Homo sapiens: one gene and its partners. The protein of the gene in region 4 interacts with the protein of the main gene of each other region in a pairwise test. Each region holds a gene or a part of one and is shown on either strand. Other genes may lie near its edges.

The links.
Region 1: the proteins of HSF2BP (region 4) and CDCA7L interact in binary tests that used the Homo sapiens proteins (3 or more experiments, as listed by UniProt).
Region 2: the proteins of HSF2BP (region 4) and ZBTB42 interact in binary tests that used the Homo sapiens proteins (3 or more experiments, as listed by UniProt).
Region 3: the proteins of HSF2BP (region 4) and NCK2 interact in binary tests that used the Homo sapiens proteins (3 or more experiments, as listed by UniProt).

Annotation. Positions count from the first base shown.
Region 1 is NC_000007.14:21,900,900-21,904,399, reverse strand, and holds part of CDCA7L (cell division cycle-associated 7-like protein), read left to right. Parts: intron 1-140; coding exon 141-290; intron 291-1,285; coding exon 1,286-1,422; intron 1,423-2,047; coding exon 2,048-2,078; 3' UTR 2,079-3,145; coding exon of another isoform or gene 3,146-3,393; 3' UTR 3,394-3,500. Other genes in the region: DNAH11 (dynein axonemal heavy chain 11), read right to left, coding at 3,146-3,393. UniProt on the Homo sapiens protein: Plays a role in transcriptional regulation as a repressor that inhibits monoamine oxidase A (MAOA) activity and gene expression by binding to the promoter.
Region 2 is NC_000014.9:104,799,818-104,803,900, forward strand, and holds the start of ZBTB42 (zinc finger and BTB domain-containing protein 42), read left to right. Parts: upstream 1-1,283; 5' UTR 1,284-1,380; coding exon 1,381-2,649; 3' UTR 2,650-4,083. UniProt on the Homo sapiens protein: Transcriptional repressor. Specifically binds DNA and probably acts by recruiting chromatin remodeling multiprotein complexes.
Region 3 is NC_000002.12:105,852,912-105,856,411, reverse strand, and holds part of NCK2 (cytoplasmic protein NCK2), read right to left. Parts: intron 1,365-3,500; 5' UTR 1,349-1,364; coding exon 1,123-1,348; intron 1-1,122. UniProt on the Homo sapiens protein: Adapter protein which associates with tyrosine-phosphorylated growth factor receptors or their cellular substrates. Maintains low levels of EIF2S1 phosphorylation by promoting its dephosphorylation by PP1.
Region 4 is NC_000021.9:43,530,489-43,533,988, reverse strand, and holds part of HSF2BP (heat shock factor 2-binding protein), read left to right. Parts: intron 1-3,500. UniProt on the Homo sapiens protein: Meiotic recombination factor component of recombination bridges involved in meiotic double-strand break repair.

The DNA of each region.
Region 1 (3,500 bases), on a different chromosome or scaffold from region 4:
GTTCTTAGGAAAACAGTCCTGCTTGATTCGAGGAGACGGGGGTATTTCTTCATATACTTGGAAATGCACATGGTGGCATCTGGCCTCATTGGGCATCAGCATATCCCTGTGTTCACCTGCTCACTGCCTTCCCCCTGTAGGGTAACACGTGCCATCAGTGTCGACAAAAGACCATCGACACCAAGACAGTGTGTCGGAACCAGGGTTGCTGTGGTGTGCGAGGACAGTTCTGTGGACCATGCCTGCGGAACCGCTATGGGGAGGATGTCAGATCGGCATTGCTGGACCCGGTAGGAACAGTGTTTGCATTTGTTGTAAATTGTATTGGTGAAGGAAGCAAGCTATAAAGATGGGCCTCCTGGGTTCTCACTGGGAACTAGGGAGCTCCAGAACTCTGGTTTTTCCCTTCCATTTGTATCTTAAGGCTCCAGGGAAAATGAAAAATAGGGATTCCTTCTGGAAGGAGAGCAAGCTGACCAGTGAATAGAAGAATTAATGTTGTTAGATTTTCCATTGTCAGAGCAAAACTTGCTTACAGTCCTCTAGTTTTATGCAAGTAATCCCTGTACCTGTCCTTCAGCAAAGTGATTTCCCTCTGATTTGTTTTGTTTTTCCTGGGCCAGGCTGAGAGGGAGGTGGAGATTGCAGTATAGAGTGCTCTCTGTGTGCCTGGCACTGTGCAAGCTGTCGCTCACTCTGTTACCATAAATTTGTTTAATCCCATGAAATAGGTGTATAACCTCTCTCAGCTCCCTCGGTAAAATGAGACATAGTATCATGGTGAGTAGGCACGACCTTGAGCCTGGGGCAGTCCTGCTCCCGAGTGTGACCTCTTAGGCAGCAGTCATGGGGTAAATATATGGTCCTCAACTGACAGACAAACAAACTGCTGCTCAGGTTAGTCATTCAACAATAAGCACACATTGAAAGGGCTGAAATTCATACCTTGATATTTTGGAAACCTTGTGCTCCTAAACCAGGGCTGACATCCTGGGCCTGTGACCTGCATGCTCGCACAGGGCCCTGTGCTTGGCCAAATGCTTGTGAAAATCTCCATAATTTTTAAGCAAGGAGCCCTAAAAGGTGTCATTTTTCAGTGTTTGCATGTGACGTGGGGTGATTCAGCCTTCCTGCCTTGTGAGGAGCCCCCTGGGACGTAGACTGAAAGATGCCATGTGATTAAAGGTTGGAGGAGAGGCCAGCTGAGCCATTCTGGATCCGAATCCCAGTTCTTGCCAGACCCTGTAGATAATGAGCGAAGTGTCTGCTGTCATCTCTCTGTTAGGATTGGGTGTGTCCCCCCTGTCGTGGGATCTGCAATTGCAGCTACTGTCGGAAGCGTGACGGCCGCTGTGCCACAGGAATCCTCATTCATCTGGCCAAGTTTTATGGTTATGACAATGTTAAGGAATATCTGGAGAGGTAAGTAAGTCTCTAGCAGCTTACAAAACAGCTTGAAATCTTGAGGCTGAGCACAGGAGACCCTCTGGGCAAGTAGTTGTTGCCTTCCCGTGTGACTTACTTACTTATATAAACCACGAGTACCATCCATTCTGTATCTGTTTGCATTGGAAAAGCTCAGGCCTGATATTTTCCCTATTAGGGAATCTTCTCCTTTGCTAGATTTTTCAACTCAACTCCACGTTGCCTTTAACCAAAATTTCTCCTTGAGGTGTATGACAGAAATGGAAGGAACAAACAAACAAGGCAGGCTGAGGGGAAAGACACAGATTATGAAGAGGCAGCCATAATCCTAGTGCAGAGAGAGAGTTCAGGGCAAGAGGACAGAATGTGAGTTACAAGTTTCATTTATGTAATTAATAAACTCTGAATCGTGGTTCTGGAATGCGGGAGTGAGGCAAGTCATGCTTGGGGCGTACTACACCAGAGGGTATACGGATATTGATGCATAAATTGTCAGGATTTCGAGTGTCAGGAGATCTGGGTTCTGGCTTTGTACTCTTAGATGATTGTGGAATCTCTCAAGCCTAGAATGCCATTTGTGTATTTGTACTACTTTACCAAATACTTCTCATCTTTTTCCCAGCTTACAAAAGGAGCTGGTAGAAGACAATTAAGAGGAAAACAAACAGAACCAGCCACCTCACCATAGAGTACTCCAACAAGACATGCATACCATTGGTGCCTAAGAAAGATTTTTTTACAGTTGTGTTTTTATACAGAAATTCTTTGTAGAAATTACTATTTTTTGTTAAAGATTGTTTATATGCTTACAAAGATTTCTCAGGAAGACAGCAGAGCAGAGGAATCTATATAGATGTATGCACAGACCTGTCTGTATGCTGAACTTTGTTAAAAATATCTGCCAGTTATTAAAAAGCACAGTTTAAATGGGGTGGGGTTAAAGTTCAGGTAAGTAAGTTAGAGAGAAAACATTGTATGATCAGCTCCTGCACTTGATCTATCTATCTTTGGCTTCCCAAACAGTAACTCACTCCAGGCCAAGTGTGCCTTAGCACGAGTGACCACAGTTTAATAGACCACACACATCGTTTAACCTGCTCTTGGTCATTGGAAATTTACACTGAACAAAGTGCAATTAACTGTAGAACAGTTTTATTTTTATTAAAACTTGACTGAACAAAAGGGGACCATCAACATTGTAGACACTGGACACTGGAGGCCTTACAGAGTGCTAGCCTCTTCCTTCAGGACTCACCTGGGGCCTGCTGCTTTTATATTTTGAAAGAGTTTAAGGGCTAATAATTTAATTTGTTGTTTGTTAAAAATTAAAATCTCCGTTCTTTCCGGCTGCATTGCTTTTGCATGTTCACATATGATGTACTTTTATGATGTACTTTTTTTTTTTTGAGATGGAGTCTTGTTCTGTTGCCCAGGAGGGAGTGCAGTGGTGCAACCTCGGCTCACTGCAACCTTTGCCTCCTAGGTTCAAGTGATTCTCCTACCTCCTGAGTAACTGGGATTACAGTCGTGTGCCACCACGCTCAGCCCTGAGTTAGTTTCTAGTATTTTTTTCTGACTTTCACTCTAAGGATAGCGTTGAAAAAAGAATGCACGTGTGAGTTACTAAAAAGTTAGAATAATGTGCATGGGAACAGTGCAGCAACATGCTAGAAAATCCTCACTGCACTCCAGCAGAGGCTAGAGGAATGCCAGTGTTACCTTACGCTTCTAGAAGCAGAGCCACTCCAGCCAGAACCCATTTTGCAGTCTTCTCTTCGCTCTTCAGCCTGAAGGTCCAGATGTAGCTGGGGCCTCTCAGTTTGGTTCTATACACAGGGCACTCGTAGGTCTGTTTGGTTTCTTGTCTGTCCACGGGGGTGGCTTTTGCAAAGATGACCGGCATAGGGCATGCCAGCTCCTTGAGACGGGCTTCAACAATGGTTCCTGCTTGGGTGTCCCAGCGGGCGCCTATGGCAAAAACACAGCGGTTGCAATTGTGTGGCAGCTTGCTACTAATGATAATGATCAAGTAAGTTGTTTGATGCAATAAACATTCAACATTCTGGTTTTGTCAT
Region 2 (4,083 bases), on a different chromosome or scaffold from region 4:
CTCTTTGAACACGTTCCTGCCTACCCTGGGCTCTGGAGGGCTTCCGACTGTCTCTGTTATGGCGTTTGTCCCCCCGTGCCACCATGTCTGCTGGGAGGTGCCCGTTTTCCGTGCCTCTCTGCGCTGGGTCCCCCATAGACGCTGGGCTGGGGTCTGTGGAGAGGGTGGAAGTCCCCGTTCTGGACTCTAGGATCGACATCCTGCTTGAATGTTTGGAAGAGGGTCCCAGCTGAATTAAATTCAAAAAGAGGCTTTCAAGGAAGAAGGAGGTGTCATCTTTGCAAAATTAACGACCCCCAATCCACGCAACCCCTACGCCATCCCAAGGCCGGCGCCCTGCGAGGTGGCGGGAGGCCAGGGTCCCGGGTTTACCCTCGGGTGACTGCCCAACGCGGGCTGGGATACAAGCGGACCCTCGGAAGGGTTCCTTTTGCAGACTGGCGCAGTAAGGACCCCATGCCGGGAAAGGTTGGGAGGTGGGGGACCCAGGCCAAAGCGCCAAGTATCGCGAGAGACCCCCTGCCCCCGCGCAGTGCCCTAAACCCCCCTCACACCCCAGCGCCCCTGCTGGCTGCGCGCGGGGCCCGGCCGGGTGGGGCGGACAGGGAAGGGGGGGCGAGGGTGACCTCAGCGGTTCCGCCGCTCCGGGAAGTCGCTCGGCCCGCCCCCTCCGGCCCCCGCCCCGAGTTTCGCTCTCTCTGGGGCGGGGCGAGCGGCGGGCGGCGCTGGGCCAGCCAAGTTGGAGCGCGCCCCGCCCGGCGCCCTCGCCGTCCCCGCGCCCTCCCCGCCGGGGCGCGCTGCCCGCAGCTCCACGCGCGCCAGGGCCGCCCTGGGGAGGGCGCGCGCGCGAGCGGCGACCGGAGAGGAGCTCGGGGCGGCGGAGGTGAGCGCTGGGGGTGGGCTCCCGGCTCTGCCCGCCCCGCCCGCCCGCCGGCCCTCTCCCCGCTCCCCGCGGCCGCGCTGCCATAAATGGGGCCGGCGGCGGCGGCATCTGGTGGGCCGGGCGGCAGCTGGAGGCGGCGCGGAGGCGTGGGGCGGGTGGCGGCGCAGCCACCCGGGCGTCGGGGACGCCGCGAGCGGGCGGCCGCCCGGGAGTGAAGTTCAGGAGCGCCCGGGCGGGGACGCGCGCAGGTTTGCGCGGCTCCGGCTCCTGCGCCTGAGTCCCGGGACCCGCCCCCGCGGCGGAGCTGCTACTGTTTACTTTCGATCGAGTTTTTCCTGCTCGGGGCAGGTGCCCGCGGCGGCTCTGGACGGGAGGTTGCGCGCGTCACTCCCGCGCCGCTCTTTCCGCGCTGCCTGCAGCCGGGAAGGGCGCTTCGTGGGCGCCTCCAGGCGCGCTGACGGGCGTCCCGTTTGTGCCCAGGTGATGACGGCGGCGGCATGGAGTTCCCTGAGCACGGCGGACGGCTGCTGGGCCGCCTGAGACAGCAGCGCGAGCTGGGCTTCCTATGCGACTGCACCGTGCTGGTGGGCGACGCGCGCTTCCCGGCCCACCGTGCCGTGCTGGCCGCGTGCAGCGTCTACTTCCATCTCTTCTACAGGGACCGGCCCGCGGGCAGTCGCGACACGGTGCGGCTCAACGGCGACATCGTCACGGCGCCCGCCTTCGGCCGCCTACTGGACTTCATGTACGAGGGCCGCCTGGACCTGCGCAGCCTGCCTGTGGAGGACGTCCTGGCAGCCGCCAGCTACCTGCACATGTATGACATCGTCAAGGTCTGCAAGGGCAGGCTCCAGGAGAAGGATCGAAGTCTGGACCCGGGGAACCCTGCCCCTGGGGCAGAACCTGCTCAGCCACCGTGCCCCTGGCCTGTCTGGACCGCGGACCTCTGCCCAGCTGCCCGAAAGGCCAAGCTCCCCCCGTTTGGGGTCAAGGCTGCCCTCCCTCCTCGAGCATCTGGGCCTCCTCCCTGCCAGGTCCCAGAAGAGTCAGACCAGGCCCTGGACCTGTCGTTGAAGTCTGGCCCAAGGCAGGAGCGGGTCCACCCACCGTGCGTCCTCCAGACACCCCTCTGCAGCCAGAGGCAGCCAGGGGCCCAGCCACTGGTGAAGGACGAACGGGACTCACTGTCCGAACAGGAGGAGAGCAGCAGCTCTAGGAGCCCCCACAGTCCCCCGAAGCCACCTCCTGTTCCTGCAGCCAAGGGCCTGGTGGTGGGCTTGCAGCCGCTGCCCCTCAGCGGAGAGGGCAGCCGGGAGCTGGAGCTTGGTGCAGGGCGACTGGCGAGTGAGGACGAGCTGGGGCCTGGTGGGCCCCTCTGCATCTGCCCGTTGTGCAGCAAGCTGTTTCCCAGCTCCCACGTGCTGCAGCTGCACCTCAGTGCCCACTTCCGTGAGCGAGACAGCACCCGGGCCCGGCTCTCACCCGACGGCGTGGCACCCACCTGCCCGCTCTGTGGGAAGACCTTCTCGTGCACATACACACTGAAGAGGCACGAGCGGACACACTCGGGTGAGAAGCCCTATACGTGTGTGCAGTGTGGCAAAAGTTTTCAGTACTCCCACAACCTGAGCCGGCACACCGTAGTGCACACTCGAGAGAAGCCGCATGCCTGCCGGTGGTGTGAGCGCCGTTTCACGCAGTCCGGGGACCTCTACCGCCACGTCCGCAAGTTTCACTGTGGCCTCGTCAAGTCCCTTCTGGTGTGATGCATCCCTGTGGGTCCTGAGGGTGGGGTGGAAGGGAAGGGATGGGCCCTCCCAGGTGGGACACAGCATGGGGTGTGAAGCCTGACCAGGTGGAGGTCCCTGCTTGGGCCAGATGGCTCCACCCTCCTGGCAGAGAGAATGCTGCCTCTTCCTGGAACTTGGCCTCAGACTCGGTAACTTGGGCAGCCTTCCTCCCACCTTGCCTCTCCTTTCCCCTCACTCTCCAACTCATTCCGGCCCCCAGGCTGTGCCCTGCCTAGGCTGTGACACTATCTTCCTCTCCCGTCCCCTCCAGCCAAGTTCTGAGGGGTGTCCAACCAGCACCTGGCTCTGCCCCCGTTTCTCCGTGTGAGATGGCACATCCATCTCCCGGCCCGGGACTTTCCTGACCACCTCTCTGGCAGGCTTGGGGAGGTCTTCATGAGCCTGGCCCCACGCTAGGTGAATTATTCACATGTCAGAAAAGTTGTTGGTGTGCGTCCCAATGGGGCGCTGGGAGGGAACAGGACACTCCTGGGGAGCGGCAGCAGGAACCCCTGCCAGGAAGGCCTGGGGCACAGTGAGTGCCAGCAGGGGCCATCTGGGCACAGCTGGTGTCTCGGGGTGGGGGGGGGGGTGCAGCCCCAGCAGGGATCCTAAGGCAGCAGGAGTAGAGCCAGCTAGAAGCTGAGTGGCTGTGGCATCATTGTCACTCGGGTGGGACGTGGGTCCATGAGAGCGTGCAATTATGACCACACTGTAACTTTGAGCAGAGAAAGTGGGAATTTGGAACTGGATTCTCTTTAGAGCCAGGAAGAGCCTCCTGAGGCGGCCAGATGTCTGCTGGTGGCCGCCCAGCCACATGCTTGTCTGCCTGAGTGCAGGTCTAGGAAGCCTCTGGGCATCCCCCAGGGTGGGGTCTGGGCCGCTGAGCTGTGTGCTGCTGCTGGGCCACCGTGGGCCTTACCTTGACGGTCACTCTGCCTGCTAGGGGGTTTCCCTGGAGCTGTGGGCATTTCCGTGCACTGACTGAGCAGAGGCAAGGGCTGCCCTGTCCGCCAGGGGCAGGGTTTGCGGGCCTTCCTTTCCCCACGGCGAGGCATGGGTGAAAGTGGCCATGGCGGCAGGGTTAGGGGCAGGTGAGGAGTGGGAGTCGCAGCACCCTAGGGGCCTCCATCCGCAGCCTTGGGAGACTGACGCTCCTCGAACATGAATAGAATGTGGAGACCACAACCCCCACACATGTCGTTGGTTCAGGTCGCCCTGCTTTGCCTGCCTAATGGAGCACATCTTGCTGCCAGAACCTCACTGGCCTCTGGGGGTCGGCAGGTGCAGAGCCACCTGGACGCCTGGAGACCACCTGGGATGTTTCCTCTGTGACTGGGAATGGCCTTGACAACAGAGTCCAGCCAAGTCTACGTTATTTTCTCATCTCCTGACAACACTGGATGTCAT
Region 3 (3,500 bases), on a different chromosome or scaffold from region 4:
TCATTTCACTAGCAAACCCTTAAGTGATAACCTGCAGTCTTGGATACAGACAACATTATACTCATAAGAAGGTAACAACGTTTTAAATGTCAGCTCAGATGAGTCATTCTTCAAAAAAGTCCTCGCAATTATTTTCTCAGGTAATCTGAGGCAGTAAATACTGTAAGTCAGTTCCGTGTGCATGTAAAGGCAAGACTGGATACTGTTAACTTTGTGTAACTCCAGGAGGGCACTGCCCATAACCTGACAACACCTGGGAAAACAAGAGGCACATGGGGAGCCGGGCACGGTGGCTCACGCCTGTAATCCCAGCACTTTGGGAGGCCAAGGTGGGCGGATCACAAGGTCAAGAGATCGAGATCATCCTGGCTAACACAGTGAAACCCCATCTCTACTAAAAATACAAAAAATTAGCCGGATGTGGTGGTGGGTGCCTGTAGTCCCAGCTACTCGGGAGGCTGAGGCAGGAGAATGGTGTGAACCCAGGAGGTGGAGCTTGCAGTGAGGCAAGATCGTGCCACTGCACTCCAGCCTGGGCAAGAGTGTGAGACTCCGTCTCAAAAAAAAAAAAAAAAAAAAGAGGCACATGGGGACAACAGTATGGCTGAACTAGGCCCCCACCATGGAGCGGCCTCTGATGTCACAAAGCTGCCCTCTTAGCTAACGGCACCCAGGACTGTGGTGTGATGTAGCATCCATTTCAGAGAGGGAAAAAGTGCTTTGGCTGTCCCCTGCTCTAGGCACGTAGGCCAAATGGACAGGATTGTATAAGAGAGAAAGAACTTCATGTCACGACACTGGCAGAGCTGGGTAGACTTAGAGGTGAGAATTCCAAGTCAGGCTCCTCTAACGTTTTGATACAAGGAGATACCTGTGCAGGGGTCCCAAGCACACAAAGTGTCTCCATACACAGGACCCCAAACTCCAGAATCTCCAGGAAATGAAAAACATCCTCTTTCTCCATCTTCATCTCTTAATTCTTAGATTATTAAAAAAGACAACTAGGAAGATATTAACTTTTAAAACAGACTTTTTTTTTTTTGAAACAGCAAACTAACTAGAAAGACGAACAGTGTCCCTTGAAATGCACAAGGCTTCCTCTCTCGAGGGTGAAACACTCACCTAGTGTGTCCTTCAGGTTCTTCACGAGGGAGCCCTTCTTCAGGCTGTTCTTCCGCTCCACGTAGTTGGACGGTACATAGCCCGTCCTGTTGGCCGCGTTCCTCACCCGCCACCACGTCTTGGAGTCGTCCAGCAACCACAGCCGCTCGTTCTTCTTGATGTCCAGCTCCTGGTCCTGCTGGGCGGTGTAGTCCCACTTGGCTATCACAATAACTTCTTCTGTCATCTTTCATGGAGTCCTTCTGCCAGCAAAACATTTGGAGATGCTCATTAGAGAACTACCCGGACACTTCATCCTTTGCACCAACTTGAAAAATTAGGCACTGACAGCTTTTATTACAACTCTGCAACCAGTTTTCTCCTGGGTCTTGAAATGCTCAACTTTAAAATGACCTTCTTTCAACAAGCTTTAGTATTTGGTTTAGAAACAGCAACCTTATAAAACAAATCTTATGTTACTGTTTGCTGTACATGGGGAAATCTGACCCTCTAACAAAAACAAACTTGAAAAAAATTCTAAATAACATTATAATTAAATGAGTCCATTTCATTAAGTAACACTGCCTCCTGATAACTGTTAGGTTGACACTCATTTTCTCAGGATATGCTGTGTCTTATAAACATATTTAATAAGTCAACATAACCAAACTACTCCTATAAATTAAAATTAACATTGTACTAATAACAAGGTGGTATCCTGGATTGGATCATGAAACAGAAAAAGAAAATTAATGGAAATACTGGTGAAATCAAAATAAAGTCTAAGAATAATAATAACAATAAATAATTGTCAATCTCTTAGTTTGGACAACACACCAGTAAGATGTTACTGCATTCACATAAGATGTTAACACAATGAGAAACCAGGTAAAGGGTATAAGGGAAAGTTCTGTACTATACTGGGAACTTTTTTATAAATATAAAATTATTCCCCAAAACTTTCATTCACACAAAAACCTGTGCAGAGACGTCTGTAGCAGCTTTATTCATAATTGCTCAAATTTGGAAGCAAGCAAAATGTCCTTTAGTAGGACACAGTTTATAGATACATAAACTGTGGTATATCCAGACAATGAAATATTATTCAGTACCAAAAAGAAATGAGCTATCAAGCCATGAAAAGACATAGCGGAACCTTAAACGCATATTGCTAGGTGAAAGAAGCCAATCTGAAAAGGCTACACACTGTGTGATTCTGACAGTTTATCCTTAACCAAACTTCAGCCAAATTCCTTTGAATCTTCTTCCCTTTAAGGCCTCAACTTTTGCACTTCCGTGTCCATCTCTGCATTGCCCAATTTTTGCAAGACTCTCCTGCTAAGGTGCTCTAGCTGGAATCCTCCACTCTCAACATCTGATCAGGTTCCTCATCCTCTACCATCCCCCAGGTGACAGCTGATCACCCTGTCCTGCCTTCAGAAGAATCCTGTTCGGTCAGTTTAGCCAGAATCCCCACGCTCCACCCCTGATGTTTCCTCTTAGTAATTTTCCACCCACCAACTCCCTTATTTTGCTCCTTGCCTATAAATGCCCACTCTTCCTTGTTGTCTTAATATTAGGAGTCAAACCCAATCTCTTTCTTGACTGCAAAACCCTACTGTAGTAGTCCCTCTGAATAAAATCTGCCTTACTGTTCTTCAACAAATGTCATGAATAAGTTTTTTCTTTAAAACGGTATGACATACTGGAAAAGACAAATCTATGGAGACAGTAAGAAAATAAGTGCTTGCCTGGGGCAAGAGGGAAGGGAGGGATGCAAGGGTGAAGCACAGGATTTTTAAGGCTGTGAAACTACTCTGCTCAATACTATAATGGCGGACACCTGTCATTATACATTTGTTAAAATCTATAAAATGTGCAACATCAAAAGTGAACATAACATTTTTCCAAAATGAAAAGTTTATCAAAACAACAATAAATAGATGCGTGTATTATATATCCAGTAAAGTCAATTTTGGAAGTAATAAATAGCAAAAGTGTGGCTGAATAAATAAAATAAATAATCAACTATTTTAGCAACTCTCTACTTCTTAGGTAGAAGATGAACCAATATTCTTTAAGCAGAAAAATTCAATATTCAGTCCTTAAACTAACTAGACATTTCTCCAAACTAGGGAGAAATGAATGATGAAAACACTCAGGACTAAAATCCCCTTCCTCCCTGACAGAGAAGTTCTCATTATTGTATAGGGATGACTTTAGGATTACAGGGGACCTATGCACATTGACTCCATGGAAGCATAAATACCATTTTTAAATAACATATTTTCTACTAGATGCTAAAAAAATTTTTTTATAAATAATACACGTTTCTTTCATGAATTAACTTCCAAATTTAAAGATAACAAACCTTTTGGGAAGGAGGAAAGCCTCTGCAT
Region 4 (3,500 bases):
GATTTTGAATAGGGGTGATAGGATATTCTTGCCTTGTACGTCATCTTAGGAAAGAAGCATTCAGTCTTCTATCATTAAGTATGATGTTAGCTGTGTGTTTTTTGTAGATGCCCCTAATCTGGTTCAGGATGTTCCTTTTTATTCCTGTTTTGTTGAGGGTTTATTATTATTATTACTGTTATGAACAGATGTTGAATTTTGTCAAAAGGCTTTTCTGCATTTATTGAAGAGATAATTTTTTTTTTCTTCTTTAGTCTGTTGTTACGGTAGGTGATGTTGACTGATTTGCAAATAATGAGCCAGCCTTCCATTCCTAGAATAAGTGTCTATTGGCTGTGAAGTATTATCCTTTTTATATATTGCTGAATGCAATTTGCTATTTTTTTGTTTAGGATTTTCGTGTCTTTGTTTATGAGGGATATTGGTCTGTTCTTTTATTTTAACATCTTTATCTAGTTTTGGTGTCAGTGTAATTCTGGCCTCATAAAAAAAAGTTGACTTATTTCCTCCTTTTCTGTTTTCTGGAAGACTTGTTTAAAATTTCTATTATTTCTGTTCTAATTTTTTGATAGAATTTGACAATGAAGCTCTCTGAAATGTTATACATTGCATGACTGTTTACCTTTAAATAATAATCCGCTGCTTCAGGTATAGTGTAAGTACCTTAAAACAGTGTTTTCCCATCTATTGATCATATTTATTTCAGATTCTTTTTCTGAAATTCCTGTATTATTATTCCAGGTTATCTGTGTGTCTGCTTCTGTTGATTGTCACTTGACAATGAGCCTTTTGTTTCCTTTGCCTTCTTTTGTTTGTTTGTTTGTTTGTTTGTTTGTTTGTTTTTGAGACAGAGTCTCACTTTGTTGCCCAGGCTGGAGTGCAGTGGCGCAATCTCAGCTCACTGCAACCTCTGCTTCCTGGGTTCAAGGGATTCTCCTGCCTCAGCCTCCTGAGTACCTGGGATTACAGGCGTGCGCCACCACACCCAGCTAATTGTTATATTTTTAGTAGAGATGGGGTTTCACTATGTTGGCCAGGCTGTTCTCAAACTCCTGACCTCGTGATCCGCCCGCCTTGGCCTCCCAAAGTGCTGGGATTACAGGTGTGAGCCACTGCGCCTGGCCTCCATTGCCTCTTCATTGTAATTTTTGATTTCAGTGTTGGACATTGTGTGGAGGGCAGTAGGCAAGGTCAAAAAACTTTTTCTGTAATGGGCCAAATAAATATTTTGAGTTTTGAGAGCCACGTGTAGTCCCTGTTGCATGTTATTCTTCTGGTTTTTACTTTTAAAAAATTACCCTTAAAAAATGTAAAACCTGGCAGGCTGCAATGGTTCATGCCTCTAATTCTGGCCCTTTGGGAGACTGAGGTGGAAGGATTGCTTGAGCCCAGGGGTTTGATACCAGCCTGGGCAGTGTGGTGAGACACCGTCTCTACAAAAAAATGTGAAAAATTAACTGGGCGTGGCCACATGTTCTGTGGTCCCTCTTTCTTGGGAGGCCGAGGTGGGAGGATGGCTTGAGCCCAGGAGATTGAGACTGCAGTGAGCCATGATTGTACCAGAGTACTCCAGCCTGGGAGACAGAGCAAGACCCTGTCTCCAAAAGGAGGAGGAGGAGGGGGGGGGGAGGAGGAGGTGGTGGAGGAGGAGAGGAGGGGGGGGGAGGAGGAGGAGGAGGAGGAGGAAAGAAGAAGAAGAAGAAGAAAAAAAAAGTAAAACCATTCTTAGCTTGCAGGCTGTACAGAAACGGGTCATGGGCTACCTTTGGCCTCTGGGCCATGCGTACCCTCTCTGTAGAGGGGAATGAGGTGGGTAGATAGTGTTATATTCAGGAATGGCCACTCCTCTTTTTCCGCTGGGTTTTCATTGTTGGGGAGTTAAGGTGGGTCTGGGTTTTGTTGTTGTGTATGTACCTTCCATCCCACTGGCTTCAAATTCCTCTAACCTTTCCTTGAGCTTAGGATGAGGGCTGAGTTGCCAAAGCGTCTTCACCCATGGCTTTTGGCCTTGCCTCTGTGTCTGCCTTAGCTGCCCCTTATCTTTGGCAGGTCTCTACTAGAGAAAGTTCCCCTCCCTTCCCCCAAAGTAGGAGGACTCTAACAGGCTGGCTTAAGATGGCTCCTGGACCCTCCCTGAGGGCTAGAGCAGATTGCCTTTTATCTTCCCTGGCCACAGCAGTCTTCTGATTCTGTAGGTGAGAAGCTTCTTGTTAGGGCTTAGTGCTGTGGCAGCTCCCACTGAGAGACTGTTCAGTCTGCTCTTTCAGTCTACATCTTAAAAGGTTTTTTTTTAATTTTTTTATTTGTTAAGTAAATGTGCTAAGAAAGAGGTGCTGATTTTGAGCCTGGTTCCAGTTGCAGTACCCAGTCAAGGAGTGAATTTACGGCATCGTAAAGGCTGCCAGTAGAGAGGAATGGTAAGGAAAGTTGGCTCCACTCTGGTGATGGATTGAAGCTTCCAGTGGGTTTGTCTAGCTATTTTTTAGTGGTTGCTACAATGTATGCAAGGCTACCAGATTCTATAAGTCCTGGGGCCATTCCCATGGAAAATAAACAACGTGAATTTTATATACCCAGTGACATTGTGTAAACTCAGTGGCCCTGATAAGTGCTGTATCTGTATGTGGTCCCTGAGGGATTTGCTGCAATTGGAGTGAAAAAGAAGTAATACTTTTTAAAACAATCTTATAAGTGGACAGAATGCTACTGTCGACAAAGAGTCAAACTCTGCAAAATATTTGAAGAGATTTGTTCTGAGCCAAATATGAGTGAGGTCCTGAGAACATGTGCCCAAGGTAGTTGGGTGCGGCTTGGCTTTATACATTTTAGAGAGGTGTGAGACATCAATCAAAAACATTTAAGAAATACATTGGTTTGGTCCAGAAAAGTGGGACAAAGCTGGGGGGCGTGGGGCTTCCAGGCTATAGGTGAATTTAAACATTTTCTGATTGATAAAGACCTGGGATTGATAGAAAGGGAATGTTCAGGTTAAGGTAAAGATTGTGGACATCCAAGTTCTTTTGAAGTCTTATGGTGGCTGCCTTAGAGACAATAGATGACAGATGTTTCCTATTCAGATCTTAGTTAATCTCTTTAGGATTAGGAGGGTCTCGAAGAAAAAGATCTAGCTATGTTAGTAGAGATTCTTTACAAATGCAGATTTTCCCCCACAAAGAACAGCTTTGCAGGGCCATTTCAAAATATGGCAAAGAAACATATTTTGGGGTAAAGTATTTTTATTTTCTTTCTTGTCTCATAATGTTATGCCAGAGTCAGGTTGGAAAGTCATGATATATAGGGTTAAATAAAACCCATCTGATGAGAATTTGTGATTTGTAGGACATGACTCCCCAGACCCCTTAGATAGGAATTTGGGCAAGATAAAAAAAATCAGAGTTTAGTCCTCACTAGCAAACAGAGAAAGCCCTCATCTTTCTAGTTTAACACTTTAAAATTGTATGACTGTAATATTTGAAGATGATGGTTATTAGACTATTGAG